3 separate regions of the Homo sapiens genome follow, and all the other regions are linked to region 2. Evidence: fine-mapped expression QTL. A gene starts in region 2. Each other region holds a variant in brackets. All regions are shown on one strand. Distances are from middle to middle. Region 1 overlaps USP22 (ubiquitin specific peptidase 22). Region 2 holds the start of USP22 (ubiquitin specific peptidase 22). Region 3 overlaps DHRS7B (dehydrogenase/reductase 7B).

The links. PIP is the estimated chance that this variant, and not a neighbour inherited with it, causes the effect. A credible set is the group of variants that fine-mapping cannot tell apart.
Region 1: its variant is the best candidate, but not a certain one, in a credible set for the expression of USP22 in aorta (GTEx, PIP 0.55).
Region 3: its variant is the best candidate, but not a certain one, in a credible set for the expression of USP22 in whole blood (INTERVAL, PIP 0.59).

The regions. Positions count from the first base shown.
Region 1 is chr17:21,005,847-21,008,607 of GRCh38, forward strand. It overlaps USP22 (ubiquitin specific peptidase 22), which reads right to left. Exons shown (of 13, transcript NM_015276.2): 9 at 2,024-2,150; 10 at 1,050-1,141. Among named protein-coding and RNA genes, the nearest start is that of USP22, 36 kb to the right of the region's middle. The variant G/A (reference allele first, on the strand shown) is at 1,675.
Region 2 is chr17:21,041,368-21,044,128 of GRCh38, forward strand. It overlaps USP22 (ubiquitin specific peptidase 22), which reads right to left and starts at 1,644. Exons shown (of 13, transcript NM_015276.2): 1 at 1,298-1,644. The coding sequence starts at 1,468. RefSeq lists a silencer at 1,330-1,929 and enhancers at 1,465-2,414, 2,415-2,761.
Region 3 is chr17:21,152,742-21,155,502 of GRCh38, forward strand. All of the region lies in intron 1 of DHRS7B (dehydrogenase/reductase 7B), which reads left to right. Among named protein-coding and RNA genes, the nearest start is that of DHRS7B, 27 kb to the left of the region's middle. The variant A/G (reference allele first, on the strand shown) is at 1,656.

The sequences.
Region 1 (2,761 bases), 36 kb before region 2:
GAGACTCAAAGTAAAGATGTTGAGATGAGATCCTCCTGGATGATCTGCCTAGGTCCTAAAGCCAATGACCACGGTCATGACAGAGAAGCAGAGGGAACTGGACACAGAGTCAGGGGAGCTGGCCATGTGACCCGGAAGCCAGGGGAGTGACAGCCACAGAAGGAACACGTGGAACCACCAGCAGCTGGAGGCGGTGAGGAATGGAATCCCCAAGACCCTTGTAGGACATGGAGCCCTGCCAACACCTTGATTTCAGATTTCCAACCTCTAGAACTGTGAGGAAATTAATTTTAAGCCGCCAGGTTTTTGGTCATTTGTCACAGAACCACAGGAAACTCCTATGTGTCTCATGCATTAGTAAGCAGCTGAATTCCAAGTACCCCAGAATAGGCAGATTTGAAAAGGAAAATGCAATCTACAACTGCAAAACCAACTATGTCTGCCTGTACTTCAACATCTGTTCCACGAACTAAAATGTTGCCTTCTCGCTGTGATCCCACCTTGAGGACTTTGCCGGTTTGAAAGTGGATTGATAATTGTTGAGAAATTCAAAACAAAAACAGGGTATCTGATGAAAAACAACTCATTAACATGTGCTGTATCTTAAGATCAGGATAAACAGATTTGGGGAAGGTGGGGTTTATATTAGTATCGACAGTCATTTTTTTTTTTTTTTTTAGACGTAGTCTCGTTCTGTCACCAGGCTGGAGTGCAGTGGCGCGATCTTGGCTCACTGCAACCTCCACCTCCTGGGTTCAAGCGATTCTCCTGCCTCAGCCTCCCAAATAGCTGGGACTACAGGTGCCTGCCACCACACCCAGCTAATTTTTGTATTTTTAGTAGAGACGGGGTTTCACCATGTTGGCCATGATGGTCTCAATCTGTTGACCTCATGATCTGCCCGCTTCGACCTCCTGAAGTGCTGGGATTACAGGCGGGAGCCACTGCACCCGGCCAACAGTCATCTTAATAGGAGCTCCGAGCTGGATTCCTGTCCTGATAGGATCACAGCCCCTCAGGACACAGAACGGGCCTACAACCCCACATACCTGGAGGCCATGAAAGGGGTCATGTCCAGCTCCAGGGGGAAGGACACATACGTGGTGATCTTCCGCCGCAGCTTGGCTGAGTGTTCAAATCGCTGCAGAAATAGGAAGGGGACAGAGGGAAGAGGAAAGAAGATCAGAAATGTCACTGGAAGCTTCAGGGCCTTCTTCTGATGACAGGTGTCTGTGTTATCTCTTTTGTATTTTATTGAACTGCCTTGTAGCTACATCTAGAATTACAGATTCAAAAACACAGTGGCAATCCACCCAAGTCCTCATTTACAGGGTTCAAGTCTTCAAATGATGGGACTGTTCAGTGGTAACACCAAGGGTACAAAAAGTAATCTTACAGCAAACCCAGCAAAGCACAGAAAACAAAACAAAGATCCGTGGCCCATGGCAGCAAAAATGAACAAATTGTTCCTTTCACCAGACAGAAGACAGTCCTTTGCCTAGATCAGGAGTCACCCATTCCAGCCAGCAAGCTAGGAATGGGCGTTTTCCATGTTTAAAGGGTGGTGAAATGAAACAAAGAACATGTAACAGAGAATCGTATGATCGCACGCAGCCTGTGGAGCTCGACATCTTCAGTTATCTGGGCCTTTAGAGAAAGAGCTTGCCAACTCCT[G/A]GACCAGATCTGCATGCTGAGGGCCTTTGTCTTAAAATAAAACAGAAAACCTGAGGAGGGGGTAGCTGGAGGAATGGTAGAAGTAATAAAAACTTCACAACCACTCTGCTCCCAAGAAAACTCACATTCTACTTTCACTGCGAAGCCACTGATTTTGTTTACCGCAGCACAGACAAAAGGACAATTCACAGATGGGAGGACAATTCCCTCACACCCTCCCTTCCTCGGTGTTCTTCCTGCTTGCTGCAATTATAAAAAATGTAACTGCACAGCAAACCAAAAGGCTGAGGACCGTACTGTGGACTAAAAACTAAGTCTGCCATTAGAGTTGGCTTTCTGGAAAACTTACTTTGAGATGAAAACAGGCTACGATGGGCAGTTTCTTCATAGTGAGCTGCTTTGTGGACTCCTGGTAGCTATGGCAACCGCTGCACTTGATCTTGGCGCTGCTGCCCAAGTGCTCTGGTCTGGTGAATCTACAGGCGTTCAAAAAAGACAGGAGCGGTAAGGGAGATGCAAGAGACAGAAAAATGAGAGGAAAGAGGTATTTTATCTCTTTCATTGGGTTGATTTCCCTACCAAAAACATACACTTACAACTAAAAATGAAACAATGAAAAAAAGAGAAAATGTTGTCCACCTTTGCTGCCTGTCTCTACAGAATATTTATCTTAAATATTTTTTTTCCAGGAAAGGCCTGGGGAAATGGTAATAATTTTCTAAGTACCATATGACCCAGCAGTTGAATTTGAGCCAGAGAAATGAAAACTAATGTTCACACACAAACTGTCCACAAATGTGCACCAGAATGTTACTCACGAGAGTCACAAAACTGGAAACACCCCGTTTCTTCCCATGGCTGAATAATTAAAGAAACTGTGGAACACTGTACCATGGAGTATGAGACAGCAGCAAAAAAGGAAGGAACTACTGATCCCAAGCTGTACCCTGGATGCGTCCCCAGAGAATTAGGATGTGCAAGAAAAGCCAATCTCAAAGGGTTCCGTTATATCATTCAGTTGACATGACATTCTGGAATTGTCAGGCGTATGGAAATGCAGGAGTCCAGGGTGACTGCGGTTACAGAG
Region 2 (2,761 bases):
CGGGTGGATCACCTGAGATCAGGAGTTCCAGACCAGCCTGGCCAACATGGTGAAACCCCGTCTCTACTAAAAATACAAAAATTAGCCGGGCGTGGTAGCAGGAGCCTGTAATCCCAGCTACTCAGGAGGCTGAGGCAGGAGAATCGGCTGAACCCGGGAGGCGGAGATTGTAGTGAGCCGAAATCGCGCCACTGCACTCCAGCCTGGGGTACAAAGCGAGACTTCGTCTCAAAAAAATAATTTTTTTTTTGAATTACTGCTTAACATACCCTACAATCTCAGCGAGCCTGTTGGTATTCCCATAAATAAAAAAATGCCACTCAAGGTGGAAACTGCCCTCACAACTCCCAATCTCGGATTGTAATCTACAAAAGCGCGTGAAACTGTAAAAATAAACTTTATTCACATAGAAGAATCACGTTACGTTTTGATTTCCAAACCCTTACCAAGCCTAACTGCGGGACGCAAGACTGGGCTCCCCGAGGGGACTCACTCCTGGTTAAGGCCTCCCACAGCCCACGGCGCGCTTCCAAGTCTACTCCTCAGCCGCAACGCAAACCCGGGCTGTGGCTCCGCACCCACAGGCTCGCCCCGGCCCCAGCCCCTGCCGCCCTCCACCTCCAGCTCCTCGCGGGCCCCGAGGCAGCCGCGAAGCTCCGGCCCCGCGCCCCCCAGCCCGCCTCCTGCCCCAGCTCCCGTCCAAGGTCGCTCCTGGCGGCGGGTGACCGCTGCAGACCAACGCCCAGAACTCGACAGCCCCCCATCCTTTACTCATTTTTTTGAAATATTTCTTTCTCTGCACCCGCATCCAGCCCCGAACCCTCCAGAACCAGGAGAGTTCCCCGCAAGGACCTCGCGCAGGAACGCCCGGGACCGCCCACCGAAGTCCCAGGCTCCCCAGGCAGCAGGGCAGGAGAACACCACCCCCGGCCCGGAAGCACTCGCCCCTCCCGGGCCAAGAAGGATAAGGGAGGGGGAGGGCGGAGAGAAAGGAGGGGGAGGGGACAGAGAGGAGGGGGAGGGGACAGAGAGGAGGGGGAGGGAAAGGAAGAATGGGGGAAGGGGGGAGAGGGGAAGGATAGGAAGATGAGGAGATAAGGGAAGGGAGAGAGTTGAGGGGGGAAGGAAAGGAGGGGGAAGGGGTAAAGAGAAGAGAGGGCAGAAGGAGAGAGGAAGAGGAAGGACAGGGAAAGGCAACGGGGGAAGGGAAGAGGGCAGGAAAAGGGCCCCTCCGCCGGCCGGCCTCAGGAGCGGCAGAAGGCCCCGAGCCCGCCGCGCGGTGGGCTGCCGGGCGCACCTTGCGCTTGCGGGCCTCAGCCGTGCCGCTCCACACGAAGCACTGGTAGATGGCCCGCAGGTTCTGCTTCCAGTTGTCCACCTTGAAGCTGCCCAGGTGCGAGCAGCCCGGCGGCGCTACCGCCAGCTCGGCGTCCATGGCCTCGCCCTCGGGCTCTGGCCGGGACACCATGGGGGGCAAGGCCCGGCCGCGCGCGGGGGGCGGCGGCGAGGGAGGCGAGGACGACGCCAGCGCGGCGTGGGGGCTGCTCGGCGGCTGGCCAGGCTGGCCAAGGCCCGGGCGCCGAGAACAAAGCGCGGAGGCCGGACAAAGATGGGGCTGCGCGATCGCCGAGGGGAGGCTGCAAGGCAGGCACCGCCCCCGAGCTGCGGCTGCTGCGGACCGCCTGCGCTGCGCTCTCGCGGTTCGCGGAGGGTGTCGCGGGGCGGGGCGCCGCGGCCGCGGACGGAGATTACGTCACCCCCCCCCCCCCTCCCGGCCGGCACCGCACTGCGCAGTCTCCAGCCCGCGCCAGGCCCTTCCCCCACACTCGCGCGCCCGTTAGGCTCTGGGTAGACCCGCGCCCGAGGAAGCGTGGTAGGGGGGGGAAGCTAACGAGGGCCCGCCCCTCCCCTTCCTTTATTGGTAGTAGGCCACCCCCCCCCCCCCCCCGGCACCTTCGGCTATTGTCATAGGCTCTCAGTATAGTCCGTCTGGTACAGAGCCGCCTCCCGGGACCCTGGCGGCTAGACGTTCCCTGTCTCTTCCAGAGGACTGGGGAGGCGGGGGCGTGCTGCGGTTGGGCGGCGCGAGACGTCAGTCCTAGCACTGAACCGGTTTGCGCCGGCCTGAGCTCTGCCGCAAAGAGGCGGGGCGATGAGCTGGAGCGCCGCAGGTCGGGCCTCCATCCAGGGCCTGCGCTTTCCCACCCAAAAGCACCCCCTAATCGGGAGCTGTTTGCAGGGCCCCCGGTTGCCGTAACCTGGCTCGGGCCCTGCAGTGCCGTGGCCCGGGGCTGGAACTGCCTGCCAACTGCCTGGTAGGCGCTGCCCCCGGCCGCAAGCTGGGGCGCCTCCTGTCGGGAGCCCGCTGATAGTGAGGGCCAACCCGGCGCCATCCAGTTTAAAGAGGCATCTGCGCGCCACACGCCTGACACTTCACATTTGCTAGTGGCTACATTTTTCTAATGAAAAAAGAAAGTTACAGTAATATATCTCAACCCAATAAAGTCAAATTATTTCAGCATGTAGGCAGTATTGCAAAATCGTTAGTGGAATGTTTTACAGTTTTTGCAGCAAGTCTTGGAAATCTGGTATTTACACTTAAAGCACATCCAATTCCTACTAGCTGCTACCGCAGTGGGCGGCACAGGTCTAATCGGTATACAAATAACTGACCCAAGGCAAACTGAGAAGACATTTAAAGACGAATGCAAACGAAGTTCTGGGGGAACCAGGGCGCCAAGGGTCTGGGGGAACTTGGATA
Region 3 (2,761 bases), 110 kb after region 2:
TACTCAACCTCAGCTCACTCTATTCTTTCATGTGGGGAAAATTAATACCCAACTCCAGCCCTCTCTAGCCATCCTGTCCCACCTGAAGGGGGAACACTGAGAGGCACTGGTGAAATTTATAGTTCACAGGCTCACCAAAAAACTGAGACCTAATAGGACTGTAGAACACTTCCCCTTCCTCCAGCACCTTACCACTACGTTACTAAAGGCCTGTTTGCCACAGTTCTTTTTACCCAGTGCATCCTGTCCACCTTTTGATTAAAAAATTACAAGTCATACTAAAAGGGAAAATACACAGAAGAGACTGAAGAAGCATCAGAACCAGAGTTTGATATGGCAGGAATGCTGGATTTATCAGACCAAGAATTTTTAAAAATCATGATTAATATGCTAAGGACTTTAATGGAAAAGTAGACAACATGCAAGAACTGATGGGTAATGTAAATAGAAAGATGAAAAATCTAAGAAGAAAAACAAAATGCTAGAAATCAAAAGTGATACAACAGAAATGAAGAATGCCTCTGATGGGCTCAGTAGACGGGACATGGCAGAGGAGAGAATCTCTGAGCTTTGAGGATATGACAGTAGAAACTTCCAAAACTTAAAAGCAAAGAGAAAAAAGACTGAAAAAAACAGGAACAAAATATCCAAGAAATGTGAGATAACTACAAAAGATGTAACATACACATAATTGGAATGCCAGAAAGAAGAGAGAAAGGAATAGAAGCAATATTTTAAGGAATAACGTTGAGAATTTCCCCCAGAATTAATCTCAGACACCAAATCGCAGAACAAGGAAGTTCAGAGAACACCAAGCAGGATGTCTTAGTCCTGTAGACTGTGTAATTTATAAAAAAACAGAAATGTCTTACAGTTCCAGAGGCTAGGAAGTAGAAGATCAAAGCACTGGCAGGTTCACTGTCTGGTGAGGGCCTGTTCCTTATAGAAGGTGCCATCTAAGTGTCCTCACGTGGCAGACGGGATAGAATGGGTGAAAAAAAGGGGGAAGGGCATGTAATCCCATTCATGAGGGCAGAGCACTCATGACTCAATCACCTACAAAAGGTCACAACTCTTAATACTATTGGATTGGGGATACAGTTTCAACATGAATTTTAAAAGGGACAAAAACATTCAAACCATAGCACAGGATAAAGGGAAAAAAGACTATACAGACATTTCATAGTCAAACTACAGAAAATCAAAGATAAAGAAAAAGATCTAGAAAAAAACCAGAGAGGAAAAATGCTACCTATAGAGGAGGAGAGATAAGAATTACATCTAGGTTGGGCATGGTTGCTCATGCCTGTAAATCCCAGCACTTTGGGAGGCTGAGGTGGGTGGATCACCTGAGATCAGGAGTTTGAGACCAGCCTGGCCAAACATGGTGAAACCCTGTCTCTACTAATAATACAAAAATTAACTGGGTATGGTGGCATGCACCTGTAATCCCAGCTACTCTGGAGGCTGAGGCAGGAGAATTGCTTGAATCCAGGAGGTGGAGGCTGCAGTGAGCCGAGATCGTGACATTGCATCCCAGCCTGGGAGACAAGAGCCAAGCTCTCTCTCCAAAAAAAAAAAAATTACATCTGACTTCTCAGAAATTATGCAAATGAGAAGAGAATGGTGTGAAATATTTAAAGCGTTGAGAGAGG[A/G]AAAAAAACCCACCAACCTGGAATTCTGTACCCTGCACAATTATCCTTCAAAAGCAAAGGAGAAATAGAGACTTTCTCAGACCAAAAATAAATAAATGAAATTGGAGGAATTTGTTGCTGGTAGACCTGCCTTGCAAGAAATGTAAAAAGTTTTTCGGAGAGAAAGAAAATGATATGAGTCAGAAACTCTGATCTACATAAAAGAACAACATTGGAAAAAGAATAAGTGAAGGTAAAAGAAAAGCATTATTTTTCTTATTCCTAATTGACCTAACAGATAAAAGTTTGTTCAAAATAATCATAGCAACAATGTATTTTATTATGTATGCTTTTATATACCAATACATTATGTATATAAATGAACATAAATATGTGTTTATGTATTTTTAGTTATAAGTGAAATGAATGACAGCAACAGTGTAAGGGAAGAGAGGGAAGAATCAGGAGTATTTTGTTATTATATGATACTTGCAATGCCTGTGGAGTGATATAGTGTTATTTGAAAGTGGACTTGGATTCATTGGAAATGTATACTGTAAACTCTAGGGCAACCACTAAAAAAAGTTTTTTTAAAAAAAGAAGCATAGTTGATAAGCTATGAAGGGAGAGAAAATAGAATCATATAAAATGCTCAGTTAACCACAGTGGGCAGAAGAACTGTGGAAGACAAAAAGAGGAGCAAAGAACAAGGGTAACAAATGAAAAAAAATTAACGAATATGGTAGCTATTAATCCAGCTATGTCAATAATCACTTTAAATGTCAGTGGTTTTGTCAGTTACATCATTTAAAAGGCAGAGATTGTGAGAGTTTATCAAAGAATAAGACCCAAATATATGTTGTCTACCAGAAACCAACTTTAAGTATAAAGACACATATAGATTAAACATAAAGAGATGAAAAAAGATCCACCATACTAACACTAATTAAAGAAAGTGGGAGTAGCTATATTTCTACACAGAGTAGACTACAGAGCAAGGAAAGTTATCAGGGTTAAAGAGCATTACATTATGACCGCAGATCAATCCTCCAATAAGACAATAATCTTTAATGTATATACACATAATAGAGCATCAAAATATGTGAGGCAAAAACTGATGGAACTGC